Regions from separate parts of the Homo sapiens genome. Here region 1 is linked to region 2. Evidence: fine-mapped expression QTL. A gene starts in region 2. The other region holds a variant in brackets. All regions are shown on one strand. Distances are between the middles of the regions.

Region 1 (16,408 bases), 67 kb after region 2:
CACGGAGGCCCTCCCGTGTGCCAGGCACTGTGGTCACAACAGTAGAGACAAAGCATTCCTGGTAGGAAGCCCGCAGATGAGTAGGTGTGGAAGAGCTTATCCATCCGCTTTTTCATGCCAGAAAGTGGTGTTGAGATACCCCAGCTGATTCAGTCTTTCATGCACGTCATACAGCCATAGCGTCAGTGACACTTGCCTGCTAACTGCTATGAAGATAAATTAATTTGAAAACGGCATTTATAGACAGCACTAATTGTACTTACACAGCCAATGCCCGTATTTAGTCACTTTCATGTGGATAATCTATTCTCTAGCTTTAGTATAGCTGACTTCAGAGGAATGTGACGGTGTGCTGATGTGAGATTGTTGCTTTTTTGCATTTTAAGAATTGTTTCTTTCTGTTTTAAAAACCTTTTTAAAAAAGTTGTAAAGTTGGGTTTAAAAAAATTTTTTTTTTTTTTTAAGAAACAGGGGTCTCACTCTGTTGCCCAGAATAGAGTGCAATGGTATCATCACAGCTCATGGTGGCCCCAACCTCCCGGGCTTAAGCAGTCCTTCCACCTTGGCCTCCCAAGTAGCTGCAACTACAGCTGTGCACCACCACACCCAGCTAATTTTTAAAATTATTTTATTGTAGAGACAGGGTCTCGCTCTGCTGTTCAGGTTGGTCTCAAGTTCCTGGCCTCATGTCATCCTCCCACCTCAGCCTTCCAAAGTGCTGGCATTACAAGCCTGAGCCACTGCACCCGGCCTTAAGATTTTTATTTTGTTTTGTTTTGTTTTCAATGATAGAACTAGGCGATAATAGCAGTTTAAGAAAACAGTTTAAGGCCGGGCACAGTGGCTCACTTTTGTAATCCCAGCACTTTGGGAGGCCGAGGCGGGTGCGTCACCTGAGATCAGGAGTTTGAGACCAGCCTGGCCAACATGGTGAAACCCTGTCTCTACTAAAAATACAAAAATTAGCCGGGCGTGGTGGCGGGTGCCTGTAGTCCCAGCTACTCGGGAGGCTGAGGCAGGAGAATCGCTTGAACCCGGGAGGCAGAGGTTGCAGTGAGCCGAGATCACACCACTGCACTCCAGCCCGGGCGACAAGAGCAAAACTCCATCTCAAGAAAAGAGAAAAAGAAAACAGTTTCACATTTTTCCAAAGGATGATTTGGCAGTAATATATCAGAAGCCTGAAAAATGTTCATATTGGCCAGGCGCAGTGACTTGTGCCTGTAACCCCAGCACTTTGGAAGGCTGAGGCAGGATGATTGCTTGAGGCTGGGAGTTCGATATCAGCCTGGGCAACATGGCAAGACCCTGTCTCTACAAAAAGTAAAATTAGCTGGCTGTGGTGGTATGCACTTGTCCCAGCTACTCATGAGGCTGAGGTAGGAGGATCGCTTGAGCCCGAGAGGTCAAGGCTGCAGTGAGCCATGATCGTGGCACTGCACTCCAGCCTGGGTGACAGAGTCAGACCCTGTCTTTAAAAAATAAATAAATAGGCCGGGCACGGTGGCTCACGCCTGTAATCCCAGCACTTTGGGAGGCTGAGGCAGGCGGATCACGAGGTCAGGAGATCGAGATCATCTTGGCTAACACAGTGAAACCCTGTCTCTACTAAAAGTACAAAAAAATTAGCCAGGCGTGGTGGCGGGCACCTGCAGTCCCAGCTACTAGGGAGGCTGAGGCCGGGGAATGGCATGAACCCGGGAGGTGGAGTTTGCAGTGAGCCACGATCGCGCCACTGCATTCCAGCCTGGGTGACAGAGCAAGACTCCATCTCAATAAATAAATAAATTAAATTAATAAATGATAAATAAAATGAAATGTTAGCTTAGCAGGACAGTTCTACGTTTAGGCTCATTTTTTGTAAACTATAAACTTTTCATTGAACTAAGATGAAGAAAATTTGTTTTAGTTTGTGGAAACATCAGCCTTTCTGTTAAACTCCACAGCGCAATCTCCCGCACACTTGTTTGATTTGATATTTATCACACGTGTGCGTCATTGTAGTTCTTGCCCTGTGTGATGAGATGCTCTTTGCTTCTTAGAAGGATAGCGTGGGTTAAAGGAAGTGTGAGCCCAGGGTGTGATACCGTTGCTGTGTATTGAGAGCGCTTTTCACTTTTAACTGGTTTCGTCACCTTATTTTTCGTCATAACATTCTCTCTATTAAAAGCCTTGTACCCATGCAAAATGAAGATGTAAAATCGTCAAAATGATGCCTTAAAGAAAAACCACTCGTGTTTCTACAAAGGCTTTTACTTCAGCAAGTGGATTCTTTGAGATCTGCTTTCTTCCTTGACTTTGCCCTGTTTAATGTTACACCACAGCCCAGTGGGAGACATTTGATTGCTCATTTCCTTTGCCAGGTCAATTTGGTGACTGACAGAGGCTCACGGGCAGGCTCTTCAGTTGTCTGGGTGCCCAGCAGTGACAGAGCCGTCTCATGGAACTCCTCCTAGGAACTACAGAGTGGGCAATTGAAAATGCAGAGAACTCCCCCGATTCACTCAAAACCCTTCATCCAAAGCCAGCTGCACCTCGACAGGAACTAATCTGATGGGCCTCTCTCTGTCACCCAGGCTGGAGTGCAGTGGCTCGATCTCAGCTCGCTGCAACCTCCGCCTCCCGGGTTCAAGTGATTCTCCCGCCTCAGCCTCCTGAGTAGCTGGGATTACAGGCACCCGCCACCATGCCTGGCTAATTTTTGTATTTTTCGTAGAGACGGAGTTTCACCATGTTGGCCAGGCTGGTTTCAAACTCCTGGCCTCAAGTGTTCCACCCGCCTTGGCCTCCCAAAGTGCTGGGATGACAGGCATGAGCCCACTGCACCTGGCCCTCTCTGGAAATTATTTTAATAAGTGGAAAAAGAACATTAACCTCTCCCCATCTTCTCAGTGTGTCTTTTTATTATTTCTTTGCTGAAATAATGTAGAATTGTGTTTTTTAGGTAAATATTGCAGATTTTCAAGAGAATCAGTGGGTGACTTGTTTCCAGGAGTCTGCTGAAGCTATCCTTGGACAAAATGCTGCTTATCTTGGGGAATTAAAAGACAAGGTCAGCCACATATTTTATTATAACTTCTATAACTTTTAATGGTTCTCATTCTATAACACTGACCCCACACATTTTTTTTTTTTTGAGATGGAGTCTTGCCCTGTTTCCTAGGCTGGAGTGCAGTGGCGCGATCTCAGCTCACCGCAGTCTCCGCCTCCCGGGTTCAAGTGATTCTCCTGCCCCAGCCTCCTGAGTAGCTGGGATGACAGGCACCCGCCACGATGCCCGGCTAGTTTTTGTATTTTTAGTAGAGACGGGGTTTTACCATGTTGGCCAGGCTGGTCTCGAACTCCTGACCTCATGATCTGCCCGCTTCAGCCACCCGAAATGCTGGGATTACAGGTGTGAGCCACCACACCTTGCCCAACACTGGCCCTCTTTTTGCTGTTTAATATTTTTTAGTTTGTTTCTTTTTGGTATTGTTTGTATACAGTTTCTCAGCCTGATAATTATTTAAGAGCTCATCTGATGTTATCTAATCTTGTCCATTTGGGATGTGCTTAACAGTGAAATAATGTATATAAAAGTACTTTAAAACCAAAGCACTTTCTAAATCGAAGCCACCCGTTTCTCCTGTTCCTATTAGCACATCAGAGCTAGTGTGCCTGAGATGACTTAGGTCGGGAGGTGTCCCTGAAACAACCTGAATTATTACAGGCATGCTTTTTTAACATAGTAAATACCTTCCAGAAAAGTTGAGTCAGATCCTGGTTAAAATGCACGTATGTCAAGTTCCTGGGTCTGTCCTATAAAACAATAATAATAAATGCACATATAAGGTGCCTGCCATTTCAGCCCATCAGATGCAATTCTTATGCGGTGACTTTCTTCCGTAAGGTAACTTTGTCCATTTCATTTTTATAAGTTTGCATTTTCACATATTAGGTTTATTTAATGTACAGAATAGATTGCTAATAATGCTGAATTTAGGAAAGGTAGTTGCTCAGGTAAAACATAAGGAAGACCAATAAAAGCTATGTTTTCTGGGCCACATAAATGGGCACCTTTCTGTAGATGGCTTTTCCCCCGATTTCCTCCAAATTGGTTGGAATACTTGTAAAGGCCACAAAGATGAAAGGCTTTGCCATTTGTTCTGGTGTGTTTTTCTTTTTCTTCCTGTCCCCAGTTCTGTCTGTTTGGGCTCTGCCCTGACTCTTTTTTTAAATTGTCCATGAGAGCTCTCAAAATAGTCTCAACAAATCCTGTTACAGAAATAACTAGAATTGACTTTAAAGTGTGATAGTATCTTTTGTCTGTTTTTACCTGGTCTTCAATTTTCGTATCAGATTTTAAGGCCCGAGTAAGCCTTTCAGGATTTTTATGAGCTTATTATATTTGACTGTTTTTTCTGCCGGTGAATGAGGACATATAGAAACTTCCCCGAGGAACCGTGAGATCCTGGAGTTCGCACTCCACGCCCCTCATCTTGGAAGCATAATGGCAGCCGGTGTAATTTTCTCAAGCTTTAACCCATTGTTTTATTTTCATATCTGAAAGTCCATTTGGTTTGGGTTTGGGTTTTGATCAAGTAACCTTTACAGAAAAGAGTTCTGTATAGCAAAGCTGCTTTCACGCCGTGCGTGACTTGCAAAAAACACTAGGTTGGTGTGAACTATTAATTAGTTTTTCTTTTTTTTTGTCAAAGGTCTCAATCAACTCTGTTAATATAGTTATTACACATTTATTTATGCATCTTTATACAAACTATATTCTCTAATTCTTGTCTGTTTACCAGACTTTTTTTTTTTTAATAAACTTAAATTGCATTTGAGGAGTGAGAGAGGGAAAAGGATTGTTTTTAGGCCTTCCCTAGCCTTTGCGCACCTCAACAGTCTTCTCTGCTTGCACACCAAATCAGTAGCTATAAATACAGAGGCTGAAATCACGAATTATATTGAACTTTCTTCTGAGTGTTTTTCCTTTTTTTCTTTTTTTTGAGACAAGGTCTTGCCTCATCACCCATGTTGGAGCGCCGTGGTGTGCGATCATGGCTCACTGCAGCTTCAAACTCTTGGGCTCAGACAGTCCTGCCACCTCAGTCTCCTGAGTAGCTGGGACTACTGGTACACGCCACCATACCTGGCTTAAGTTTTTTTTTTTTTTTTTTTGGTAGAGATGGGGTTTTGCTATGTTCCCCAGGCTATTCTTGAACTCCTGGCCTCAAGCAGTCCTCCCACCTCGGTCTCCCAAAACATTGGGATTATAGTCACGCGCCACCATACCTGACCTCCTAATTTTTTTTTTTTTTGAGAGTCTCGCTCCATAGCCCATGCTGGAGTGCAGTAGTGCAGTCTCAGCTCACTGTAGCCTCCGCCTCTCAGGTCGAAGCAATTCTTCTGCCTCAGCCTCCCTAGTACCTGGGATTACAGGCACCTGCCACTATGCCCAGCTAATTTTTGTGTTTTTAGTAGAGATGGGGTTTCACCGTGTTGGCCAGGCTGGTCTTGAACTCCCAACCTCAAGTGATCCACCCGCTTCCGCTTCCCAAAGCGCTGGGATGACAGGTATGAGCCACCGTGCCCAGCCTTAAAGTCTTAGAAACTTCCTAAGAGCGTTTTTAATTTTTTGTGTCTAGTAAAGCATACATAACCAAATTTGCCTTTGTAACCATTTTTACGTGTACAGTTTAGTGGCGTTAGGTACATTCACATTACTGTGCCCCTGTCACCACCATCCTTTTCCAGTACTTTTTTAAATAGGCAAATTCATAGAGACAGACGACAGCCTTGTGTTTTCCAAGGATGGAGGGAAGGGGAGAATGGAGACACACTGTTCATGGGTGGCGATTTGAAACTCTGCACATTAAGCAATAGCTCCTTTTCCAAAACCCTCTTCTCCCTGGCCCTGACAACTGCCATTCTACCTTCTATGAATGTGATTAGTGTTTTAATTTTCAATAAGATTCTACTTAAAACAGTTTCATGTAATGTTACCTGTAGATGAGTCATTCCTAAGTAATTTGAAACTACCCAGGAGATGCATTTTCAGAAGTCTTTTTAAAAGTCTTATCAGTATTTGCAAGTTGTCCAGTGGTTTCCATGTGTCAAGTTTTATGTTTGTTTTTGCAGAATGAACAGGCATTTGAAGAAGTTTTCCAGAATGCCAACTTCCGATCTTTCATATTCAGAGTCAGGGTCAAAGTGGAGACCTACAACGTAAGTAAGGGCCTGGGCAGCAGGGTTGGTGGTGGGGAGGTGCTGTTTGTCACCTACGGCAGTGTCGTGACACTCCCTGGCAGGGAGTTACTGTACTCACTGCCAGACCCCGGTGCTGACTTTGCCCAACACAGGTGCTGTTATGATCCCCATTTTCAGATGAGGAAGGAGAGAGAGCTTAAGTGTCTTGTCGAAACAATGGCGGGGGGGTGGGGAATACAATATGGATTTTTTTGTTTGTTTATTTTTTTTATTTTTATTTTTTTTCAGTTAAATCCTAGGATTTTTTCGTCTGTGTTCTGACAAAAAAATTATAACGCATGCAGTAGAGTCATATCTTTGACAAATTTAGATTGTAGAAAAGTATATTAAGTATATGAGCCGGGCGTGGTGGTGTGTGCCTGTGGTCCCAGCTACTTGGGAGACTGAGGCAGCAGTTCAAGGCCAGCCTGGGTAACATAGTGAAACCCCGTTTCTAAGTCAGTCAGTCAGTATATGAAACAAAGGCCACGTGTGGTTAAAACTACCTTGAAAATTCCTGAAATTGCCCATAATACCATATAGTATTTATTTATTTATTTATTTATTTATTTATTTATTTATTTATTTGAGACAGAGTCTCTGTCACCCAGGCTGGAGTGCAGTGGGACGATCTTGGCTCACCACAACCTCCGCCTCCCGGGTTCAAGTGATTCTCCTGCCTTAGCCCCTCGAGTAGCTGGGATTACAGGCGCCCGCCACCATGCCCGGCTAATTTTTGTATTTTTAGTAGAGACGGAGTTTTCACCATGTTGGCCAGGCTGGTCTCGAACTCCTGACCTCAGATGATCCACCCGCCTCAGCCTCCCAAAGTGCCAGGATTACAGGCATGAGCCACCGCGCCCAGCTTAGTTATAGTTATAATCAAACAGTATTGAGCATGGTCTGCCAGGTAACTGTTCTACATCCTTTACGTGGAACATCTCACTTGAGCCTAGTAACCCTATATGTAGAAACTGTGGTTACCCTATTTTGCCACTGAAGGAATTACATACAGAGAGACACGGGCATTCAGAGAACAAGTCACTTGCCTAAGTTGTATGCTAGCAAGTGGTCGAGCTAACGTCCAACCCAGGCAGCCTGACTTCAGAGCTTTGCTTTTGATCATGCTTACGAGTATCACGGGATTTAGTACCGACCAAGCACACAGCAGTGTGACAGCCCCGAGCTCGCCTGTGCAGCCTTCCTGGGTATCACTCCGTTCTGCCCGGAAAGGCACCATTCAGGCCGTGAGTGTAAACGTACGAGTGGGCAGGGGGAGTGGTAGAAACGCCCCTGCTGATTGCAGGGTTTACTCACGTATTTACCTTAACGCCCGTTCTTCTGCGACTACTATAAACATTAAATGAGATAGGGGATCAGATGTCACCGTGAAACAATGTCAGGGAGTGGGGTGGGGCTGGGGGGGATTTTTGGGGCCATTCAGCCCCATCGTGTCTGGACAGGGAAGGTGAAGTGAAGAGAGGCTGCCTCCCCAGAGCTGAGACAGGACAGACTCGGTCCTCTCCCTCTGCTGCAGGTGCTCTTCCTTTCACCACTCAGCTTTTCTTGAAATGAAAGTTTGAAAGTTTAGCTTTCAGAACTAGCTGTGTGGCTTTGTGCAAGTCACATGTCCTCTCTGGGCTGTATCCCCTGCAGTAGGGAGAATAAATGAAACTAGAGAAACCCTCTAAAGTCCATCTCACTAGGATTCTAGGCTTCTGGGTGTTTGGGAGCTTGGGTAAAGAATCAGAAGGGCCTGTGCTGGAGAAAGGACCTGTTCACTCGCCCAGCCCCAGACATTCAGGAGGAGGCTGTCACTCACTGGAATGACTGAACTCTGAACCCGTGCGTCTGTTCCCTCCCGCTGGGCTCACTGAAACCACTGAAGCAAAAGGGGTTTCACTGCTCCACACCACACTTTCACTGCTCACAAACTACTTCTCCCTTTTTGAAGGACGAGTCTCGAATTAAGGCCACTGTGATGGACGTGAAGCCCGTGGACTACAGAGAGTATGGCCGAAGGCTGGTCATGAGCATCAGGAGAAGTGCATTGATGTGAGAGGAGCAGTGCCAATCGGGCAGAAGTTTGCAAATAGGCAGAATGGAATCGATTTCCTCCCACCTCCGTGTGACGATCCCATGTTAGCTACACAGTGCAGAGGCTCTTGATGGTGGACTAAGCAATTTCCCCCCTCGTGCGCATCTCAGAACCCATCGGTAGGCAAAGGAAAATACGCTCAGGTGGTTGTGGTGTAGACTGTGTCAGGCCTACGGAGTCAGCCAGTGGCTAGCGCAAGACCAGTCACTCCCTCTGCCTTCAGGCTTCTGTCAATTTCATTATCATCAAGCAGGAATTATGTCGTAAGTCACTGACCCTAACTGCAGACCATGAAGTAAATTATGTAACTAGGTTTTTGCTTCTCCAGTGGTGACCACCCCCCCCCATCCCCGCTCACAACTTGGGTTCTTCTCAGCGGGGCGAGCTGAGAAGCGGTCATGAGCACCTGGGGATTTTAGTAAGTGTGTCTTCCTAGAATTCGAAGGCTCTCTCTTTCTAGAGGTGCTACATAGTTGGTAATGCTTGGAATGGCAATAGGGTAGAATGATTAATCAAAGGCATATCTTCTATATCTGAAGAGTATCCTTCCTTCAGGGTTTAATAGACTGAGTCAGATGGGTCTGATATTAATCAAAATTGTCTCTTCTGAGGACCGCTGATAAGCATTGACTTGCCGTCCCCTAAGGAAATCCGAGCGGCTACAAAGCGTTTCTTTACTT[C/T]TCACTTCAATTAATGCTGCGCTTCGCTTGGTGAGTGCGTACTTTTTCTACCTGTACACATTCCTGCATTCATGTATTTTGTTTTTTTTGACTAAAGCTATGTTACATGGAAAGGATTTTGAAGCCTTTTGTTTCCCTTGCTTTGTTTTAATAAACAGTATATTCTTTGGTTGTGAATCCTACTTTCTTTGAATGCAAAGAGTTCCTATAACTGGAAAGCAATTAATTAGCCTTCATAATAAATGTTCACTTGGGGGGGATGTTAACTCATTATAAACCCGAAGATTAGTCCAAGGCATGGAGATCCTTCTTCCTAGTGTTTGCAGCCCTGAAATGCATCTTTCAAAGCATGAAAACACTAAAAACAAAAAGCCATTTTGCCTGAGGATGCTGATGATCTGGCACTTGGGATTTTATTGATGTTTACGCAGCAGTCTAACACCAACCACGCTTTGAAATGTGTACAGACAGTGAGCTGGTAAGAAAACAGTAATTATGCTAGTGGGCCTTTCAGTCAGCAAAAGCATGCTCGCTCTGTGTGTTCCTAATCATATTAATTATCTATCCGGTGGCTGCAACACACCGCCTGCCATTGGCCGCACATCTCGCCGTCGTACCCCGGCAGTGCGGCGGTCACTCTGCAGCCAGAGGACCTGCTGTTCATCACTGCACATGCCGCCTGCGGAGGCTTTTGGATATGGGGAGTGATGGTGTCCTGTCTGTCTCCCCCCTCGGTGTCTGCCGTTGACATAGGGGCCAGCCAGCCCTAGACGGGATGACTTCCGTTCCTGAGGACAGACACAGAGGGACTCCTGCTCAGCCTCACTAATTGTTTAGACACATTCCTTCCTACCCTTCTCTAGTCTCAGGAGATGGTAACTGGGTCGCATTTCAGTCTCTGACTGAGGCCTCAGCCATTTTTACGGAAGTTCTTTTCTGTCTGACCTTGCTTATAAAGCATCGACGAGAAAATTACAGTCTTCAACCCTCTTCTGGATTGACAAATTGTGGCTGGGAAGTGGCGATCTAGCTTTCAGCCCAGTAACCAGTCTTTCATGCCTACTACTCCCAGCATTCCCTCCTCTCCCCACGTGTCTGTCCACACAGTGAAGAGGCCTGACCAGCCGTGGTACCAGGACAGGACGTGTCCAGGGAACGCTGACACCTGTCCTCGCGCCTTCTCAGTGGCCAGCGTGATGAAACCAGCACGTCTCCGTGGATGTGATTGGGAACCCAGGGGCAGTGCCAGGGGGAGGGCTCCCTCGAGGAGGCTGTTTCTAACAGATTTCCCCACTCAAAGATCAGATCACCAGCAGAGGAGCATCAGAAACTGGCTCCACTGTTGGGCTTTTCAGAGATTTTGGTCCCTGCGGGTTGCCTAAATAGATTCTGGCCCACAGTTTACCTCGAAAGGCTGTTGATGTTGTTCTGTTTCTCCTCTTTCACTTAGAGATCAATGTTGATTTTGCGTACACCATGACATCAGCGTTAGGCAATTAGGAGAAAAAAATCTAATCATTTCGCCTTTATTTCAAGTGGTTCTTGAATTCCCTCCAGTCTCATTGTGAAAGGGGCAGGGAAAAAAATAAAAGGGTAATAATCTGATTTCTGTCCATATTTCCAGTGTTTTATGCTTTCCATTAAAACCTTGCTAATCTCTCGCGTGCTGTTCCTTTTTTGAACTGCAGGGTCAAAAATGTTCCCCTCCCCCACTTCTGTTTCCTGAGTGGGCTGTCTTCAAAAAGTATAAATACTATTGATCGTGGTATTTAATACACTAATGAAACCCATGGTTATTGACTACATAATTAATATACTGTCCAAAAGTGAAGTTTGGCCGCCCAGTATGTAAAGGTTTATATTGACTCATGTTTCTTTGGCAATATGCCGCCCAAGGTTTTATTTATAGAGGATGAAACAGGTTGTTTGGTCTCCTTTTCTTCTTTTCACCTGTTAGAAGGCCACTATTCCCCTAGTAAACTGATTGTTTCCTTGTCTCAAAGGGAAGATTCCCCCCACTCCCCGGCCACCTTTTATGTGGTTTGTTAACTCTTAGTCTTATATCCACTCCGCTGGTAGAGTTCTGGCTTTTATAAACACCTTTGGAAGTCATCGGTTCCTCAAAAAGAGAGCATAGATGTTTAATTTTCACTTATTCAAAAAAACTGGTATTTTTGTTATTAAGACATTAAGTAAATGTTTAAGAAAAAAAAGGATAATTTGGACTATTGACTTTCTTATGCAAGTAATCATATTTGTTTGTTTGTTTGTTTATTTATTTTGAGACGGAGTCTTGCTCTGTCACCCAGGCTGGAGTGCAGTGGCACGATCTCAGCTCACTGCAACCTCCGCCTCCCAGGTTCAAGCGATTCTGCCTCAGCCTCCTGAGTAGCTGGGACTACAGGCATGTGCCACCATGCCTGGCTAATTTTCTGTATTTTTAGTAGAGACGGGGTTTCACCGTGTTAGCCAGGATGGTCTCGAACTCCTGACCTTGTGATCCACCTGCCTCGGCCTCCCAAAGTGCTGGGATTACAGGTGTGAGCCACCGCGCCCGGCCTCCATGTTTATTTTAGGAAAATAATCTACAGTTAAGAAAAACAAAATTGGCCTGGCACAGTGGCTCATGCCTATAATCCCAACACTTTGGGAGGCTGAGGCGGGCAAATCGCTTGAGCCAAGGAGTTCGAGACCAGCCTGGGTAACATAAGGAGACCCCCGTCCCTACAAAAAAATAAAAATTAGCTGGGCGTGGTGGCACACACCTGTAGTCCCAGCTACCTGGGAGGCTGAGGTGGGAGAATCACCTGAGCCGTGGGAGGTCAAGGCTGCAGTGAGCCATGATTGCACCACTGCACCCCAGCCTGGGCGACAGAGCGAGACCCTATCTCAAAAAAAGGGGGAGAAAGGGTGGGTGCGGTGGCTCTCCCTTGTAATCCCAGCACTTTGGGAGGCCAAGGCAGGTGGATCACCTGAGGTTAGGAGTTTGAGACTAGCCTGGCCAACATAGTGAAACCCCACCTCTACTAAAAATACAAAAATTAGCCAGGTGTGGTGGTGGGCTCCTGTAATCCCAGCTACTCGGGCAGCTGAGGCAGGAGAATCACTTGAACCTGGAAGGCAGAGGCTGCAGTGAGCTGAGATCGCACCACTGCACTCTAGCCTGGGCGACTGAGCGAGACTCCATCTCAAAAAGGCAAAAGAAAAATAAAATTACTTAGGATTTCACCAACCAGTAATAAACACTTGTGTAGCTGGCTACTTTTTTCTTCTTTTTTTTTTTTTTTGAGACAGAGTCTTGCTCTGTCGCCAGGCTGGAGTGCGGTGACACGATCTCAGCTCACTGCAACCTCCACCTCCCGGGTTCAAGCAATTCCCCTGCCTTGGCCTCCCAAGTAGCTGGGACTACAGGCATGTAGCTGGACTACAGCCTGGTAGTTGGGACTACAGGCATGTGCCACCGTACCCAGCTAATTTTTTGTATTTTTAGTACAGATGGGGTTTCACCATGTTAGCCAGGATGGTCTCGATCTCCTGACCTCGTGATCCGCCCTCCTCGGCCTCCCAAAGTGCTGGGATTACAGGTGTGAGCCACCGTGCCTGGCCCTGGCTAGTTTTTTCTATGTATCTATGTGTATAGAGTTTAAATTAAAAATGGTAGCATAGTAAGCATATCATTTTGTAATGATTTTCTCCTAGGATGGGCATCTTTATTTTGATAAAAATTGCATCAGAACCACCATTAGGCCAGGTGCAGTGGCTCACACCTATAATCCCACACTTTGGGAGGCCAAGGCAGGTGGATCACTTGTGATCAGGAGTTCAAGAGCAGCCTGGCCAACATGGTGAAACCACATCTCTACTAAAAACACAAAAATTAGCCGGGTGTGGTGGCTCACCCCTGTAATCCCAGCTGCCCGGGAGGCTGAAGCAAGAGAGTCCCTCCCCGTGAGGCAGAGGCTGCAGTGAGCCAAGATCACACCATGGCACTCCAGCCTGAGCGACTGAGGGAGACTCCATCTCAAAACAAAAAAATCACAAACATAATTAAAAGATTTACTAATCATTAATAGCTTTAGATAAATAATTTTAAGTGGTGTTTGGCTCTTTGGATGTGTTTTCAGCCAATTCACTCTTGCAGGATGCTTATACTTTTTCTAATTGTTATAAATTCAAGATTTCACGAGCAGAAGCGTTTATGCTTTGTGGCACTGACAATCCATGCCTTTTCTTGTTCTGTTAGGTTCTCTCATTGATTTTTCTTTGCCTAAGTCCAGGGATAACTCCTCTAACCCTGTGTACCACCAAGGGCTGGTAGGTAATTTGAGCAGGTCCTTCCTTGGAAGCAGGTAGATTAATGTAGGGAGGGGAGGGAAAAAGAAGGCTTTGGAGCCCTGGTTTCATCCTGCCTACTACACAGACGGGGGCTGTGCCTATGAAGAGGCGAAACTCTTGTTTCCCACCACCCTGGCAAAGAAGGCCTCTTGAGAATACATTTGACTTGCCTATAAATCAACCTGATTATCTAAAGCTATTAATGATTATTAAGTCTTGTAATTATATTTGTAATGATGGTTTTGAAAAGTCATTGAGAAAAGTATGTAGCCACTCGTCTTCATGGTTCCAGCCTGTCAGTATGTGACTTTATTTTTTGAGATGGAGTCTCTGTCGCCCAGGCTGGAGTGCAGTGGTGCGATCTCGGCTCACTGCAACCACCACCTCCTGGGTTTAAGTGATTCTCCTGCCTCAGCCTCTTGAGTAGCTGGGACTACTGCACGCCCAGCTGATTTTTTGGGGTCTTTTTGTTTGTTTGTTTGTTTGTTTTTTAGACGGAGTTTCACTCTTACCCAGGCTAGAGTGCAGTGGCACAATCTCGGCTCACTGCAACCTCTGCCTCCCAAGTTCAAGCAATCCTCCTGCCTCAGCCTCCCAAATAGCTGGGACTACAGGCGCCCGCCACCATGCCCAGCTTATTTTTTGTATTTTTAGTAGAGACGGGGTTTCACCGTGTTAGCCAGGATGGTCTCAATCTCCTGATCTCGTGATCTGCCCGCCTCTGCCTCCCAAAGTGCTGGGATTACAGGCGTGAGCCACCACGCCCAGCCTTAGTATGTGACTTTTTTTTTTTTTTTTTTTTTTTTTGAGATGGAGTTTCGCTCTTGTTGCCCAGGCTGGAGTGCAATGGCGTGATCTTGGCTCACTGCAAACTCTGCCTCCCAGGTTCAAGCAATTCTCCTGCCTCAGGCTCCCGAGTAGCTGGGATTTACAGGTATATGCCACCGCGCCCAGCTAATTTTCTATTTTTAGTAGAGACCATGTTGGTCAGGCTGGTCTCAAACTCTCGACCTCAGGTGATCCGCCCACCTTGGTCTCCCAAGGTGCTGGGATTACAGGCGTGAGCCACCGCGCCCAGCCAGTGTGTGACTTAAAGATATCTGTCCCTGAGAGCTATGGACTATTTAGAGCAAGGCTTGGGGGCTAAGTAGTCATATCACAGTGATATTAAAATGCAGTTGAGGGGGAAATTGCTGGAAGACTGGAGTCAATCAGGAAAGACTTCACAAAGAATTGGGTGATTTGAGACTCACTGATTAGAGCCTTCATTTAGGTCGGGGCTGTCCGGTCTGTATGAGGCAGACCGAGAGCAACACTGGTAACAGTGGCATGCGCTGTGTTCGTCACTGACACGAAGCCACGCGGTGCCACGGAGGCTGGGTAGAGGTACTGAACGGAAATGGGTTCCTGGTGCAAATAGGACAGTGTTTGACTATGGGCTGAGTGAAAGTTTCTTTTTTTTTTTTTTAATTTTTTATTTTTTTGAGATGGAGTCTCTCTCTGTTGCCCAGGCTGGAGTGCAATGGCACGATCTCGGCTCACTGCAACCTCCACCTCCCAGGTTCAAGCGATTCTTCTGCCTCAGCCTCCCGAGTAGCTGGGATTATACAGGCGTGTGTCACCACATCTGGATAATTTCTGTATTTCTAGTAGAGACAGGGTTTCACCATGTTGGCCAGGCTAATCTCGAACTCCCGACCTCAGGTGATCCGGCCTCCTCGGCCTCCCAAAGTGCTGGGATTACGGGCGTGAGACACTGTGCCCGGCCAGTAAGAGGTTCTTGTGTTATCCATTGCCATACCCCTAACCTGCATTGGGTTTGTCGTGACAGTGTCTGACTTGCCAGTGAGCTCGTGGGTGTTTGTGAGAGGCTTTGAACCAGCCACCTGGCTGCATTTGCAGCTTCTCAGGCTCTTAGTAGCTGTCGCTTTACACCCTCTCCTTAGCTGTTGATGAGTCTCAAAATGTATACTTTTCAATAAAACAAATCTTTTTTTCAGCCTTGAATAGACCCTGTGAAAAACTGAATCCCACCTGCCTCGTGAGAAATATTTATATAGCCAACTCAGAAGTGATCGTGTAAACTTTTAATAATTGCGAGCCGTTCTTATAAAATTATGCCCGTTCCCTAGTGCATTACCCAGTTGGTAATTGGAAGTTTGTGCTGTCATTAAAAATGACAGCTTCCTCAGATAACATTCTCGGTGCTTGTAAAATGCAAATAACCAAACCTATATTTAACTTATGTGTGTTGCAGCTTCCTTTCAACGGCCAGGTAACCTAGGGGGCTGGTGCCTGTTAAAGAGGAGGGCTTGCCGCGGGGAACTGCAGCTTTGTGCTCTTCAATGCCCAGCCCTGAAATGGAGTTAGAACAGGCAGGACTTTTTAAAAATAAGCCCCAGTTGGACTCTCATCTCCTCTCACCGTTGACACTGCTGTTCATGTTGAAGTTTATTTATATCTTCAGTCAGCCATGGTACAGAGGTCATTTCCATTGGCCTAAAATTTTAGAGGCTTATATGTTTGCCTGGGAAAGCTGATCTCCTCAGCACTTAGGCTTGTAATGCAAAGCCTGTCTCTTGCAGAAGCTTTTCTGCTTCCATAACACGGCGACTCCCACCGTCACCACCACCACCAATTTCCTGCTCCACGATTTATTCAAAATCTGAATAGCTGTATAAGGTGCATCCCTGCAAATGAGCTCTCCTCCTCTAATGGGCTCTTTCCAGGCAGCAAACCTTTCACAAAGGAGCCACTAATTAAGCAAAAAACAGTTTGTCTTGCTTAGCCACGTTTCAGGAGTCCAGCAGTCAGTTTAGAAGACGGCAACATCCTTTACAGCCGTGATGGTAATAATATTCTTTTGTCTCATACCAGGGTCTCTAACTGGCAATTTGGGTGTCTGGGTGTGCGTGTGTCCCTGTTCTGTCTTGCTCTCCATCTTGAAGAGGAAAATTTGTTTCCGTGGACTTTTATTTTTTTGGAAATCCTTGTTAAAGTTACTCTGTAAGGATCAAACCCACACCAAGCCTTCCTGGTTGGAAAGAGGCGCTGCCTGAGTGTCGAT
Region 2 (16,408 bases):
ATTGCACTCCAGGCTGGGTGACAAGAGCGAAACTCTGTCTCAAAAAAACAAAAACAAAAAACAAAGTATATACCTGTGAGTTGGGAAGAAGAGAGCAAAATTACATCTAAAATTATACAAACTCAAGAAAGAGCAGTATTTGCAATGTTTAGAAATAATAAATTACGTGTCAGAAGGCTGGGCACAGTGGCTCACACCTGTAATCCCAGCACTTTGGGAGACCAAGGTGGGCAGATCACCTGAGGTTGGGAGTTTGAGACCAGCCTGGCCAACATGGTGAAACCCCATCTCTACTAAATATACAAAAATTAGCTGGGTGTGATGGCACACACCTGTAATCCTAGCTACTTGGGTGGCTGAGGCATGAGAATCGCTTGAACCTGGGAGGCAGAGGTTGCAGTGAGCCCAGATCGTGCCATTGCACTCCAGCCTGGGTGGCAGAGTGAGATTCTGTCTCAAAAAAAAAAAAGGTCTGGTGTGATGGCTCATGCCTGTAACCCCAGCACTTTGGGAGGCTGAGGCGGGTGGATCCCTTGAGGTCAGGAGTTTGAGACTAGCCTGGCCAACATGGTGAAACCCTGTCTCTACTAAAAATATAAAAATTATATATTTTAGGCATATATAGTAGTGCATGCCTGTAATCCCAGCTACTCGGGAGACTGAGGCAAGATAATCACTTGAACCTGGGAGGCAGAGGTTGCAGTGAACAGAGATCGCGCCACTGCACTCCAGCCTGGGTAACAGAGTGAGACTCTGACTCAACCTGTTAAAAAAAAAATTAAATGCCAGAAGAAACAGTTAATTTAAAGTAGCTGTCTCTGGGGAATAAGAATCAGGAATGGGGAAGAGTGGACAGGGAGTTGCTGTTTTTCCTGATAAGTTTTGAAGCACTATTTGATTTCTTAAAGTATGTATGCATATTATTCTGATAAAAAATTAAACTAAGGAAGGAAAATATTTTCACTAAGGCATCTGGTCTACATAGTTTTACAGAATTTTTCTACTAGCCTTTAAGAAGCACATAATTCCTACATTATATAAGCTATTTCAGAGCACAGAAAAAGGCGGGAAGCTCTCCAATTCATTCTGAGGCTACCATAACCCACCATGGTATCAGCTGGGATTACAGGTGCCCGCCACCATGGCCAGTTAATTTTTTGTATTTTTAGTAGAGACAGGGTTTCATTCACCACGTTGCCCAGGCTGGTCTTGAACTCCTGACCTCAGGTGATCCACCCGCCTTGGGCTCCCAACATGCTGGGATTACAGGTGTGAGCCACTGCACCCGGTCAGATGATTTAAAAACTCTTACCTTTTATTTACACCACCAATCACCAATTAGAGAATGTAATTGGGGGGAAAAGCCTTATTCACAATAACAACAAAAACCTTACAAGAAGAATAAATCGAACATGAAATGTGTAAGACCTATATAAAGAAAACTATAAAACTTTACTTAAGGACATAGAAGAAGCCTTAAAGAAATGGACATACCCTTTATTTGGATTAGGAAATTTAATATTGTAAAGATGTCAGGTCTCCTTAAGTGAATCTATAAATCCAACACATTCCCAATCAAAAGCCCAACAACATTTTTTATAGAACTTGAGAAGCTGGCCGGGCACGGTGGCTCACGCCTGTAATCCCAGCACTTTGGGAGGCTGAGGCGGGTGGATCATGAGGTCAGGAGATCAAGACCATCCTGGCTAACGTGGTGAAACTCCATCTCTACTAAAAATACAAAAAAAAAAAAAAAGATAATAAAATAAAATTAGCTGGGCGTGGTGGCAGGCGCCTGTAGTCCCAGCTACTCGAGAGGCTGAGGCAGGAGAATGGCATGAACCCAGGAGGCAGAGCTTGCAGTGAGCCGAGATCACGCCACTGCACTCTAGCTTGGGTGACAGAGCGAGACTCCGTCTCAAAAAAAAAAAAAAAAAAAAAAAAAGAACTTGACAAGCCAATTCTAAAGTTCACATGGGGGAAATGCACACAAAATACCCAAGATATTCTGGAATACGAACAATGACTATGTGTGTGCGAGCAGGAAGCTGGCCTCTGGGCCACTTCCTGGGAGCCGCCTGGGTACTGAGACTCCCCTGCTTTCAAGTACCCTTTCTCTCTACTTCCGGTAAATCTCAGTGGGGAATCCATTTTTTGAGGCTGAAGAAGGGTAGACCCCATTTCACAGCAGGGTTGGGCACATGACACAGGCCTGGCCAATCAGAGGAGTCTCATACCTCTGGTTGAAGGGATGTGCATGTGATCAAAATTCAGTTGACCTGAGCCCCACCCAGAAGTTTTCTGCTGAAACTTCAGAAAGACAGCCTCTTCCCCTGGGGTGTTATTACACTATCAGGGTGTGCCCAGGGCTGTGAATGGTTATAGCACCCACTAGATGGAGAGAATCTGTCTGACACATGAAGAAATACACATTCTGATGACATCCTTTGAGCCCCTGAATACAACCTAGCCTGAAAATAGATCTCCCTTCAGATAGCCTAGTTTCATAGCTAAAAGTTTCATACTTTGAAGGGGGTTTCTGTTACTTGAAACTGAAGAGTTCTAGAGTTTCTAAAATGACACTATAGGCCAGGTGGGGTGGCTCACGCCTGTAATTCCAGGACTTTGGGAGGCCAAGGTGGATGGGTCACCTGAGGTCAGGAGTTTGAGACCAGCCTGGCCAACATGGTAAAACCCCGTCTCTACTAAAAATACAAACATTAGCCGGGCATGATGGCGTGTGCCTGTAACCCTAGCTACTTGGGAGGCTGAGACAGGAGAATCGCTTGAACCCACGAGGCACAAGTTGCAGTGAGCTGAGATTGCGCCACTGCACTCCAGCCTGGGCGACAGAGGGAGGCTCAGTCTCAAAAGAAAAATAATACTAATAAAATACACTATAAAGTCACAGTAATTAAAACCCTTTTGTTCCGGCACAGATCTAGAGCCTAGAAACAAATTTGTGGATAAGTAGTGATATGGCGTGGCTGTGTCCCCACCCAAATCTCATCTTGAACTGTTATTTCCCAGAAGCCTGTGTTGTCGGAGGGACCTGATGGGAGGTAACAGAATCGTGGGAGTGGTTTCCCCATGCTGTTCTCGTGATAGTGAGTGAGTTCTCACGAAATCTGATTATTTTATTTATATTTATATTTTTATTTTTTGAGATGGAGTCTTGCTCTGTTGCCCAGGCTGGAGAGCAGTGGCACAATCTCAGCGCACTGCACCCTCCGTCTCCCAGGTTCAAGCAATTCTCCTGTCTCAGCCTCCTGAGTAGGTGCGGTTACAGGCACATGCCGCAATGCCTGGCTAATTTTTTTTTTGCATTTTTAGTAGAGATGGGGTTTCACCATGTTGGCTGGGCTGGTCCTGAACTCCTGACTTCAAGTGATCCTCCTGCCCCAGTCTCCCAAAGCGCTGCGATTACAGGCGTGAGCCACCGCGCCCGGTGAAATCTGATGATTTTATAAGGGGCTTTCCCCCTTTGCTCAGCACTTCTCCTTCCTGCCACCCTGTGAGGGCTGTGCCTTTTTTTCCTTCGTCTTCCACCATGATGGTAAGTTTCCTGAGGCCTTCCCAGCCATGTGTGAGTCAATTAAACCTCTTTTCTTTATAAATTACCCAGTCTTGGGTATTTCTTGATAGCAACGTGAGAATGGAGTAACATGAGTAGGAATTTAATTTTAATAACTGAGGCATTTGCAAGCACTGGGGAAAGGATGCGTCATGCATTAAATGCTACAGAAAAATTGTCCACCTGGAAAAAAAGTGAGAATATTCCTTCACATAGTACACAAAATCAATTGGAGATGTATACATACATCATAACATAATGTTGTACCCCTTAAACGTATATTTTGTCAGTTATACCTCAATAAAGATGGAGGAAAAAGTGCAGAAGGATTAGAGAGCTAAAGGTAAAAAAATGTTAGCAGAAAACAATGAACATTTTTATCAACTCCCAAGTAGTTGGAATTACAGGCACATGTCATGTTGTCTGGCTTCATTTTTATACAGCCATATCTGTCATTTTCTTTCTTTTTTTTTTTTTTTTTTGAGAAATAGTCTTGTTCTGTCACCCAGGCTGGAGTGCAGTGGCACAATCATGGCTCGCTGCAGCCTTGACCTCCCAGGTTCAAGTGATCCTCCCACCTCAGCCTCCTGAGTAGCTGGGACGACAGGCACATGCCACCATGCTTGGCTAATTTTTAAAATTTGTTTATAGAGATGGAATCTCACTATGTTGCCCAGGCTCCTGGGCTCAAGCAATCCTCTCACCTTTGGCTCCCAAAGTGCTAGGTTTACAGGTATGAGCCACCGCACCCAACCTCATCTTCTTTTATACCTTCTGGGTTGTGTCTTGCTTAGGATGGTTCACTCCACCATCCTAAGGAAGACAGGAGGATCGCTTGAGCCCAGGAGCTTGAGGTCAGCCTGAGCAACATACTGAGACCTTGTGTCTAAAAATAAATTTTAAATGAAATTTAAAAATTTGAAACATATATACACAATTTATATACAATGTAAATGTAAAACATTTACATTGTAAATAGGGTAAAAAAGATAAACAGATTGGGAATAATTTATACAACAAATAGTAACTTACATAGCAAAGAACTATACAGCTAGATTTATGAAGATCTCCTACAAATGAACAAGAGAATAAAGACAACCTGCTAGAAAATGGGCAAGGGACACAAATAGGCAATACACACGAGAAATAAAAATGCACTGGGGGGCCGGGCGCAGTGGCTCATGCCTGCAATCCCAGCACTTTGGGAGGCCAAGGCGGGCGGATCACCTGAGGCCAGGAGTTGGAGACCAGCCTGCCCAACATGGCGAAACTCCATCTCTATTAAAAATACAAAATTAGCCGGGTATGGTGGAATGCGCCTGCAATCCCAGCTACTCGGGAGGCTGAGGCAGGAGAATCACTTGAACTTGGGAGGCGGAGGTTGCAGTGAGCCAAGACTGTGCCACTGCACTCCAGCCTGGGCAACAAGAGCAAAACTCTGTCCAAAAAAAAAAAAAAAAAAAAAAAAAAAGAAAAGAAAAGAAAAGAAATGAAGACTAACAAAAAAAGTATAACCCTAACTGTACCGAGTATCTGAACTGGCAAGGCTCAAAACTGAACTCATTATTTCATTCAATTAATATACGAGCGCCTACTATGTGCCTGGCACAAAGATAAAGACATCAACCTTGAACGTGAAAGGTGTGTGTTTCTGGATCTGCAAATATATAAGGTTCTGCTTTATACGTCATTTTAAGCACTAATAACAGCCAGTAACTAAACTAAGAACTTTATATACATTACCAAGTTGTCATTCAATTAATGTTTACTAACCACTTATTTTTTGACACTGCACTATTTTTGTCTATAGAAAGACAAACAGGCCGGGCACAGTGGCTCATGCCTGTAATCCCAGCACTTTGGGAGGCTGAGGCGGGCGGATCATTTGAGGGCAGGAGTTCAAGACCAGCCTGGCCAACATGGTGAAACCCTGTCTCTACTAAAAATACAAAAATGTGAGCTGGGCATGATGGTGTACGCCTGTAATCCTAGCTATTTGGGACGCTGAGGCATGAGAATCGCTTGAACCCAGGAGGTGGAGATTGCAGTGAGCTGAGATTGTGCCACTGCACTCCAGACTGGGTGACAGAGTGAGACCCTGTGTCAAAAAAAATAAAATAAAATAAAAATAAATAAATAAATAAATTAGCCGAGCATGGTGGTGTGCGACTGTAATCCCAAATACTCGGGAAGCTGAGATACGAGAATTGCCTGAACCCGGGAGGCGGAGGCAGTGGGCTGAGATTGCGCCACTGCACTCTAGCCTGGGTGACAGAGCGAGACAGTCTCAAGAAAAAGAAAAAAAGAAAAAAAAAAAAAGAAAAACAAATACAAACACGGTCCCTTCCCTCATGAAGTTCACAATCTAGCGGCAAAGGCAGGCATTAGTCAAAAGAGCACACACATATATAAAGGAAAATCACACAGCATTGTAAATGTACAAAGAGTGAAGATGGCCCAGCTGAGGCTCAGGGAGAGCTTTCCTGAGGAAAGATCTGGCTAATCCTGCAGGATGACAGAAGTGAATTAGTTCACAGGACACGCTGGGATAGAAACGAACCAGGAAAAGTACTTCAGGCATTTTCCATCAAAAAGAGATGTTACCAGGCCAGACATGGTGGCTCACGCCTGTACTCCCAGCACCTTGGGAGGCCAAGGTGGGAGGATTGCTTGAGCCCAGAAATTTGAGACCAGCCTGGGAAACAAGCAAGACTCAATCTTTATTTAAGAAAAAGACACATTACTTCAGAGCAAATGACAAAATAGAACATTTTTTGGCTCACAATTCCCTTGTTAAAGCTTGATTTACTTACTGAAGAAGTGAAGAGGAGTGAAGAAAGATATCCCTCAAGGTCTCTGCTGTAGAAATTGTGACCTGAACAGACGTCGGGAGTGAAGCCCACTTTTGAAGCAGATATGATTTCCATTCATCCACAGGCAGATCCATGCTGCTTTTGATCTATAAAATGAGTAAGAAAATAGGAATCTTACAAATGCACAATTTTAGAAAATCAAGAGTTCAGCCAGGTACGGTGGCTCACACCTGTAATCCCAGCACTTTGGGAAGCCGAGGTAGGTGGATCACGAGGTCAGGAGATGGAGACCATCCTGGCTAACACAGTGAAACCCCGTCTCTACTAAAACTACAAAAAAATTAGCCAGGTGTGGTGGCGCACACTTGTAGTCCCAGCTACTCGGGAGGCTGAGGCAAGAGAACTGCGTGAACTGGGGAGGCGGAGGTTGCAGTGAGCTGAGATCACGCCATTGCACTCCAGCCTGGGTGACAGAGCAAGACTCTGTCTCGGAAAAAAAAAAAAAAGGAAAATCAAGATTTCATTCAAGGAAGCCTGAAACAATAAAATCAATTCTTGTGGTCTTTTCCTCTAGTTTATATGCTAAGGAAGGATCTATATTTTCTCACAGCAATTCACTCAACATCCTTCCATTCAGAAATATTTACTGAAAGACTACTTTGTCACAGGCACCATGCAGGTGATGGTTATACAAAGACGAAGCAGACTAGATAGCTACCATCTGTGCTCTTAGATCCTCTTTTTTTTTTTTTTGTGAGGCAGAGTCTTGCTCTGTCACCCAGGCTGGAGTGCAGTGGCACCATCTCGGCTCACTGCACCCTCCGCCTCCCAGGTTCAAGCAATTCTCCTGCCTCAGCCTCCGAGTAGCTGGGATTACAGATGCGCGCAACTACGCCCGGCTAATTTTTGTATTTTTAGTAGAGACGGGGTTTCACCATGTTGGCCAGGCTGGTCTCGAACTCCTGACCTCAGATGATCCGCCAGCCTTGGCCTCCCAAAGCGCTGGGATTACAGGCGTGAGCCACCGCGCCCGGCCTGATCCCTCTCTAGTTTCTCTGAGACACATCCCAGATTTTTCTTTCTCACCCACCCCAGCAACTATTCATTTAACAAGGTATTTCCCTCTCTTACATAGTTCAGCGTTCTGATTAAGTCCTCACCATCTCGTCTGGCATTCTTCCTAGAGTGTTATAATTAATGTCCATGCCATTGGCACCACTCCCCACTTTCAATCCAGCCTCCAACACTGAGACAGAAGTCAGTGCTCTGCCCTTAAATTCATCAACGCTACTCCAAGCATACCAGGAAGCCCAGGACAAAACCATCCTTACTTGACCCTTGTCTGACTTTCTAATTCTCAGGTGTCACTTACTCCTCTGCATGCACCCTTGCATACTGAACAACTCATTGCTATCCCCGGCTTGCCAGGCTATTTCAACTCTCCAATGTTTTGGCATAGGCTACTCATGCTTTCCGGACCAACCCTACCCTGGCTTATGGAGTCCACCTGGAAAATTCCCACACGTTCTTCGACTCGGCTCAAATGGCACCTCCTCCGGGACGGCGTCCCTGATTTCCCAGCTGTGATTCCAACACCCTTGGGGCCTGTACCACGTCTACCTGGAGGTGGGGTTACTGACGGCATAAAGTGCCCCCACACACTGTCCTCTTCTCTAAGGACGGGGGCCGGGTCTGATTCCCTTTCGGAGACCCCCCACCCCCACCCCCCACCGCCACGGTGCCAAGCTCAGGGCTTGGAGGCGGGAAGTCAGCCCCGCGTTGCTGGACGAATCGGGTCACTACTGCGACTCTATTTAGCAGCGGAGGTCTCAAGGAACAGCTTTAACCTCCTCTGGGATACCAACCCGTGCACTCGCCAGAGACCGAGGCGAGAACGCCTCGAGAACCGCTCAGACGCGCCCGGAACTGCGCCCTGGTCTCCCTCCCAGCGCCCGCGCAGCTCCTGGCGCGCCCCTTGGCGCCCCGCTCCGCCCCGCACCGCGTCCGGCGTCCCGCGCCAGGCCTCGCTTGGGACCATGGGTGGGTCACGTGGGCCGCGCCTCGGCCAATGCGGCGGCTGCGTAGCGCCCGGGCCCGCCCCTGAGCCGCGCGCACGTCGGGGGCGGGAGCGGTGCGCGCAACTTCTCGGGCCAATAACTGCGCAGCGCGCGGGACCCGGGTGGGGAAGCTGGAGCTGTTGCGGGGTCCGCGGGGAAGTCTTGGCGGTGGAGCCATGGTCGGCCAACTGAGCGAGGGGGCCATTGCGGTGAGGAGGTGCCGGGGGCTGGGCCGGCGGTCCGGGGTGGCTGCGGCCCCGAGCCTCGCGGAGTAGAGAGGGGGAGGGGAGCCCGGGGCGACGGGGGATGAACGCGAGGGGAGGAGATGGCGGGGGGCGGTGGGGACCCGCCGGGCGTCCCTCTAGTGTCATCGCCCCCTCCTCAAAGCATTCTTTCGATCGTCTTTAAAACATGCTCACATTTTTCCTACGTAAGAACAAACTAAATAAACGCTTGCCTTTCTCTGCATCTTCCACCTGCGGACACTTTCTGTCTCTTCTCCTTTCCCCACCCACAGCCAAACTTCTTGTCTGGTTTCAGCCACTTCCTTTCCTCGCCTTTCATCAACTCTTTAACCCACTCCAGTCATCCCTTTGATCGCTGTAGAAAACCCTGGCTGAAGGTACCAGTGGCCTCCAAGTTGCTAAATCCAGCCCTTTTCCGTTTTCAGCTTACCTGAGTTCTCAGCAGCGTTTGCGTTTAAGCCCTGCTTGCTTCAGGTCACACCCTCTTCCTTGGTTTTTAGTGGCTCAGCTTGGCAGGTCTATCCCCGTCTTATTTGTAAGTCCCTCTTTGTAAATTTTTGTTGAATCAAGGCTCCCTCTAGGCCCTCTTGACTCCCGAGGCAATTTCTTTTTTTTTCTCCAGCCTGGGCGACACTCACTGTCGCCCAGGCTGGAGTGCAGAGGCGCGATCTCGGCTCACTGCAACCTCCGTCTCCCGGGTGCAAGTGAGTCTCCTGTCTCAGCCTCCCGAGTAGCTGGGACTACATGTGTGCGCCACCACACTCGGCTACTTTTTGTGTTTTTATTAGAGACTGGGTTTCATCATGTTGGCCAGGCTGATCTCGAACACCAGACCTCAAGTTATCCGCCCGCCTCGGCCTCCCAAAATGCTGGAATTACAGGCATGAACCACCGCGCCTGGCCCCAAGGCAATTCCATTGCCATCTATTAATATATGTCAGTTGCTCACAAATTTCTTTGTACAGAGCCACCTTTACTCTAAAAGACAAACTTCCGTCATCTGTCTGCTTATTCCATGCTTCAGAGGGTTTTAAGTTCAGTATACGTATCCCAAAGCAAATTCTTTATCTTTCTAAGTCTGGGCCTCTTGATCCCTATCTCCACGGATGGCACCATTATCTATTCAGTTCAGTGCTAACCAGAAATTGAGAAATCATTCCTCCTATATTGTCCATTACCTGGGCATCCAGTCCCTCACGAAGTGAAGTGTATTTTGCCTCTGCGTAGATCTATCAAGCCCACTGGCTTCTCTCCATCCATACTGGCACCGTCTTTTTTTTTGCCTGAGCTGCTGACTTCCACTCAGCATACGTTCCTGCCACCATTCCCATCCACAGCATACTCTCAGCCTACCTCTCCAGTCACCCCCACATTTTTTTTTAAATTTAGATTTCTGGTATATTCCATACTCCTACCTTCTTCCATGGGGCCTTTGAACTTTTTTTTTTTTTTTTGAGCTGGAATCTTGCTCTGTTGCCCAGGCTGGAGGGCAGTGGCGCGATCTCGGCTCACTGCAAGCTCTGCCTCCTGGGTTCACGCCATTCTCCTGTCTCAGCCTCCCGAATAGCTGGGACTACAGGTACCCGCCACCACGCCCGGCTAATTTTTTGTATTTTTTAGTAGAGACGGGGTTTCACCGTGTTAGCCAGGATGGTCTCGATCTCCTGACCTTGTGATTCGCCCGCCTCGGCCTCCCAAAGTGTTGGGGTTACAGGCGTGAGCCACTGTGCCCGGCCTTTTTTTTTTTTTTTTTTTTTTTTTTGAGGCAGAGTCTCACTCTTTCTCCCCATACCCCCCCACTACCGCCCCAGGCTGGAGTGCGGTGGCGCAATCTCGGCTCACTGCAACCTCTGCCTTCTGGGTTCAGGCAGTTCTCGTGCCTCTGCCTCCAGAGTAGCTGGGATTACAGGCATGTACCACCACACCTGCGTAATTTTTTGTATTTTTAGTAGACACGGGGGTTTCACCATGTTGCCCAGGCTGGTCTTGAACTCCCAACCTTAGGTGATCCACCCTCCTCGGCCTCCCAAAGTGCTGGGATTACAGAAGTGAGCCACCGCACCCGGCCCTGAACATTTTTTTCCCTCTGCCCACTGCCTGGGTGGTTCTTCACTCTTCCCCACACTGGCAAACACTATCTTCGTATCTCAGCTCATTTGTGACTTCCCTTACTAGGCTAAATCCCTTTGAGACCCCAATTCCTGTTCATTCACTTATTGAATTATTTATTTTTTTTCTTTTTGAGATGGAGTCTTGCTCTGTTGCCCAGGCTGGAGTGCAGTGGCACGATCTTGACTCACTGCAACCTCCGCCTCCTGGGTTCAAGCAATTCTCCTCCCTCAGCCTCCCAGGTAGCTGAGAATACAGGAGACTGCCATGATGCCCGGCTAATTTTTGTATTTTTAGTAGAGATGGGGTTTCACCATGTTGGCCAGGCTGGTCTCGAACTCCTGACCTCAAGCAATCCACCTGCTTCGGCCTCCCAGAGTGCTGGGATTACAGGCGTGAGCCACCGCGCACGACCCCATTCACTTATTAGATGCATGACTTGAGGCAAGATACTAAACTGTTTCTTTTCTGTAAAATGAGAGCAATGATATCTATTGCATAAGGTAAGTAGGAGGATGGAGTGAGTTATTAAATTTAAAGTGCTTAGCACACTGATACATAGTAAATGCTCAGTGTTTATGTTACCTATTAATAATTGCAGTTTTATGTTTGTTGATTTATCAGTTTCTTTTTAAAATTTTAAAATTATTGTGTTTGTTTGTTTGTTTGTTTTGAGACAGAGTCTTGCTCTGTTGCCCATGCTGGAGTGCAGTGGCACATTCTCGGCTCACTGCAACCTCTGCCTCCCGGGTTCAAGCGATTCTCCTGTCTTAGCCTCCCTAGAAGCTGGGATTACAGGTGCCCACCACCACACCCTGCTAATTTTTGTATTTTTAGTAGAGACAGGGTTTCGCCATGTAGGCCAGGCTGGTCTTGAACTCCTGGCCTCGAGATCCACCCACCTTGGCCTCCCAGTATGCTGGGATCACAGGCTTGAGCCACTGTGCCTGGCCTAATACTTTGTGTAAATTCCATGAGGCCTGCAATCATGTCTGGGTTATTTTACTCTGCATTGTATCCCCAATACCTGGAGAAGTGCTGGCAAGTTTTAGGTGCTGAATAAATGCTTGCTAGTTGCATGAATGAATGAGGCAGTGGGAAGAAAGGGACAGGTGAATGGGGAAGAAAGGCAGCTTGGGGGAAAAACAGGAACAGGAAGAACTATTGTTGGACTCAAGTGAATATTTAAATAAATTAGGAATGTGTGAATGCTGAAACCGGGGAAGTGATTTTAAATTGTAGCTTTCATTTACTTTATAGCTGCTACCTTGTGTCTTTAAGACAAATTAAGAATGTTTCTAGGCCAGGCGCAGTGGCTCACGCCTGTAATCCCAGCATTTTGGGAAGCCAAGGCAGGCAGATCACCTGAGATTGGGAGTTTGAGACCAGCTTGGCCAACATGGAGAAACTCTGTCTCTATTAGAAATACAAAATTAGCCAGGTGTGGGGGCGCATGCCTGGAATCCCAGCTACTTGGGAGGCTGAGGCAGGAGAATCTCTTGAACCCGGGAGATAGAGGTTCCGGTAAGCCAAGATCGCACCATTGCACTCCAGCAACAAGAGCAAAACTCCATCTCAAAAGAAAAAAAGAAAAGAATGGTTCTTCACTTTTAAAAAGACTGATCATGGGCCAGGCGCAGTGGCTCATGCCTGTAATCTAAGCACTTTAGGAGGCCAAGGCAGGTGGATCACTTGAGGTCAGGAGTTCGAGATCAGCCTGGCCAACATGGGGAAACCCTGGTCTACTAAAAATACAAAATTAGCTGGGTGTGTTGGCGTGTGCCTGTAATCCCTGCTGCTTGAGAGCCTGAGGCAGGATAATTGCTTGAACCCGTGAGGCAGAGGTTGCAGTGAGCCGAGATTGCACCAGTGCATTCCAGACTGGGCGACAGAGTGAGACTGTCTCAAAAAAAAATAAAGAATGATCATGGAGATATTTAAATAATTTGATAAGTTTTTTTATTTTTTAGAGATGGGGTCTCACTCTGTTGCCCATGCTAGTCTCAAACTCCTGGGCTTAAGCGATCCTCTCGCCTCAGCTTCCCAAAGTGCTGTGATTATAGATGTGAGCCACTGCACCTGGCCATGTTTTTATATTCAAAATTTTATAAACCTATTTCCAGCGTAGGTGAAGTATTTTGTTCATAAATGAAGAATGAAAGTTTCACATGTGTTTGTGGTGATGGAATGAGTTGGAGAACCTTTGCTGACTTTCATTATCAGCTAAAGCAGGTATCATTTTCGTTCAAAAGACACAGGCCACAAAGGGTACGCAAATACCACACACATGTGAAGGCGTTTGGGCAAGAGTCACATGATAAAATAAGAGATGATGCATAGAACTCTTGTGGTCAACAGAATACATAGCATTTGTATCTTAATTATATAACGAAAGGGGAAGGGAACTAATGTTTTTGACTATTTCTAATGTGACAGATGCTTTAGTAGTCAGTACTTAAGTAACCCTAGAAGATAGCTATTATACTCCCATTTTACAGAGGAAGGAAGTACAGAGAGGTTGAATAATGTGTCCATGGGGTGAAGATTTGAACACATGTGCCCTTGAGTATTACATTTGTTGCTTTATATACTTACTAGGGATTTTTTTTTTAAAGGGTCTCACTCTGTTGCCCAGGCTGGGGTGCAGAAGCACAATCTCAGCTCACTGCAACCTTCACCTCCCAGGTTCAAGTGATTCTTTTGCCTCTGTCTCTCGATTACAGACGTGCGCCACCACGCCCAGCTAATTTTTGTATTTTTAGTAGAGATGAGGTTTCGTCATGTTGTCCAGGCTGGTCTTGAACCCCTGGCCTCAAGTGATCTGCCGCCTCGGCTTCCCCAAGTCCTGGGATTACAGACTTGAGCCATTGCACCTGGCCGTAATTTTTTTTAAATGACAGAGTCTTGTTCTTTGTCTCTCAGGCTGGAGTGCAGTGGCATGATCATAGCTCACTGCAACCTCCAACTCCTGGGCTCAAGTGATCCTTCCACCTCAACCTCTCCAGTAGCTGGGAGTACAGGTGCATGCCACCATGCCCAGCTAATTTTTTTTTTTTTTAATTTTGTGTAGAGATGGGGTTTCGCCATCTTGCCTAAGCTGGTCTCTAACTCTTGGTCTCCAAACAGTTCTCCTGCCTTGCCTCCCAAGTCTTTGGGATTATAGGCATGAGCCACTGTGCCTGGCCTTGTCCCTTAAAATGAGTTACATTTGTAAACAGCTGATTTCTTTGGAGCATCGTCCCCATATACTTTTCTTTCATAAGTGATCTCATCCTTCTTCCACCCAACCTTCCCCTTGAATTTGTTGTTTGTTGTTGTTTCCATTTTAGCAGAATTCATGTTGCTCTGATAGGGGCTCTTTTCAAACTGATGTCTTATCCTTCTTAGTACCTCAAACTAGGTCTTGTTCAGACATGTTATAACAAGTTAGTATGAGTTTATTTTAGTGCAAAAAAAATTTTTGAAATGCATGCATAGTTTTTTCATAATGCACATTTTTCGTGTACTTTTTGAATCCCCCTCATACATGCACGTGGTTTTAAAATCAAACGGAACAGAAAGGTGTTCATGGCCGGGCATGGTGGCTCACATGTGTACTCTCAGCACTTGGGGAGGCTAATGCAGGAGGATCCCTTGAGGCCAAGAAAGAGTTTGATACCAGGCTGGGCAACATAGCAAGATCCTGTCTCTATTTCATTTAGAAAGAAGAAAGAAAGAGGTGTTTAATGTAATTACTGACCTCCTGCCTTACCTTGTCCAGTACTGTTCCCCAGAATAACTGCTTTTTAGAAAAATCACTGTCATTGACATTTTGCTTACGTATAGTAAATTGCACCTTTTTTATTTATTTATTTATTTATTTGAGGCAGAGTTTCCTCCTGTCACCCTGGAGTGCAGTGGCGTGATCTCAGCTCACTGCAACCTCTGCCTCCCAGGTTCAAGCAGTTCTCATGCCTCAGTCTCCTTAGTAATTGGGGTTACAGGTGCACGCCACCACCTGGCTAATTTTTGTATTTTTAATAGTGATGGGGTTTCACTATGTTGGCCAGGCTGGTCTCGAACTCCTGACCTCAGATGCTCCTCCTGCCTTGGCCTTCCAAAGTGCTGGGATTACAGGCATAAGCCACCATGCCCGGCCAAATTGCACGTATTTTAAATGTACAGCTTGATGAACTTTGACAAATGTGCGCACCCCTGTAACCACATTGCCCCTGTGGAGATATAGAATACTTCCATCAACGCACAACTCCTCTTGCTCCTTCCCCACCTCCATCCTCACCCTAGGCAACCAGTGTTCTGGTTTCTACCTTTGTAGGTTAGTTTTGCCTTTCCTAAGACTTCATATAAATGGAATCAAATAATATCTATCCTTTTGTGTCTGGCTTCTTTCAGCAGTTTTTTTTTTTTCCCCAGAGGTAGGGTCTCTGTCACCCAGGCTGGAGTGCAGCGACACAGTCATGGCTCACTCCAGCCTTGACCTCCTGAACTCAAGAGATCCTCGCACCTCAGCCTCCTGAGTAGCTGGGACTACAAGTGCATGCCACCACTCTTGGCTAATTAAAAAAAAATTTTTTTTTTTTTTTTTGAGACACAGTCTTGCTCTGTTGCCAGACTGGAGTGCAGTGGCGCAATCTCAGCTCACTGCAACCTCTGCCTCCTGGGTTGAAGCGATTCTCTTCCCTCAGCCTCCCGAGTAGCTGGGATTACAGCCGCATGCCACCATCCCCAGCTAATTTTTGTATTTTTAGTAGAGACGGGGCTTCACCACGGTGGTCAGGATGGTCTCGATCTCTTGACCTCGTGATCCACCCGCCTCAGCCTCCCAAAGTGCTGGGATTACAGGTGTGAGCCACCACGCCCGGCCTAAAAATATTTTTTGTAGCGATGGAGTCTTGGTGTGTTGTCCAGGATGATCTTGAACTCCTGGGCTCAAGTGATCCTCCCACCTTGGCCTCCCAAAGTGTTGGGGTTACAGGCACAAGCCACCACTGTGGACCAAAATGGTTTTTGAGATTTACCCATGTTAATTCAGTAATCTGCACCTTTTTATGGCTCAGTAGTATTCCATTGTATGACTATAACAAAATTTGTTTATTTACTTATTATTGCACATTTGGGTTATTTTCATCTTTTGGCTATTATAAATGAAGATGCTATGACCATTTAAGTACAACTCTTTTTGTGGAAATATGTTTTCGTTTCTCTGGGATAAATATCTAGGAATGTAATTGCTGGGTCACAGGTAACTGAATGTGTAAAAGAAATCGCCAACCTTTTCCAGTGTGATCATGAGAATTCTAGTTGCTCCATATCCTTGCCAGTCATCAGTCTTTGATTTCGAGTATTCTAGTGAATGTGTAATGGTATCTCACTGTGCTTTTATTTGTATTTCTCTGGTGGCTAGTGACGTTGAGCATCTTTTCGTGGGCTTACTGGCCATTTGTATATCTTCACGAAAGAAGTGTCTGTTCACATCTTTTGTTCACCTAAAAATTGGGTTTTGTGCTTATTAATGAGTTGTGAGAATTCTTGATTCTTGCTAGGTCTTTTGTTAAATATAAATATTACATATATTTTTTCCCAATCTGTGACTTGCCTTTTCTTTTTTGA

Direction of the effects. Positions count from the first base shown, and alleles are read on the strand shown. Sizes are in standard deviations (SD) of each study's normalised expression.
In carriers of allele C in region 1, the expression in cerebral cortex of the gene that starts at base 8,532 in region 2 tends to be higher than with T alone (small effect, 0.29 SD a copy in GTEx).

Evidence for each region.
Region 1: its variant is fine-mapped to the expression of RPA1 in cerebral cortex (GTEx, PIP 0.92).

Annotation. Positions count from the first base shown.
Region 1 is chr17:1,888,889-1,905,296 of GRCh38, forward strand. RPA1 (replication protein A1) reads left to right here. Exons shown (of 17, transcript NM_002945.5): 15 at 2,945-3,052; 16 at 6,121-6,207; 17 at 8,183-11,194. The coding sequence ends at 8,287. Among named protein-coding and RNA genes, the nearest start is that of RPA1, 67 kb to the left of the region's middle. RefSeq lists enhancers at 15,281-15,330, 15,411-15,460. The variant C/T (reference allele first, on the strand shown) is at 9,007.
Region 2 is chr17:1,821,474-1,837,881 of GRCh38, forward strand. It overlaps RPA1 (replication protein A1), which reads left to right and starts at 8,532. Exons shown (of 17, transcript NM_002945.5): 1 at 8,532-8,653. The coding sequence starts at 8,621. It overlaps SMYD4 (SET and MYND domain containing 4), which reads right to left and starts at 8,429. Exons shown (of 11, transcript NM_052928.3): 1 at 8,253-8,429; 2 at 6,388-6,533. The coding sequence starts at 6,521. RefSeq lists enhancers at 2,472-2,611, 9,428-9,928 and a silencer at 8,281-8,800.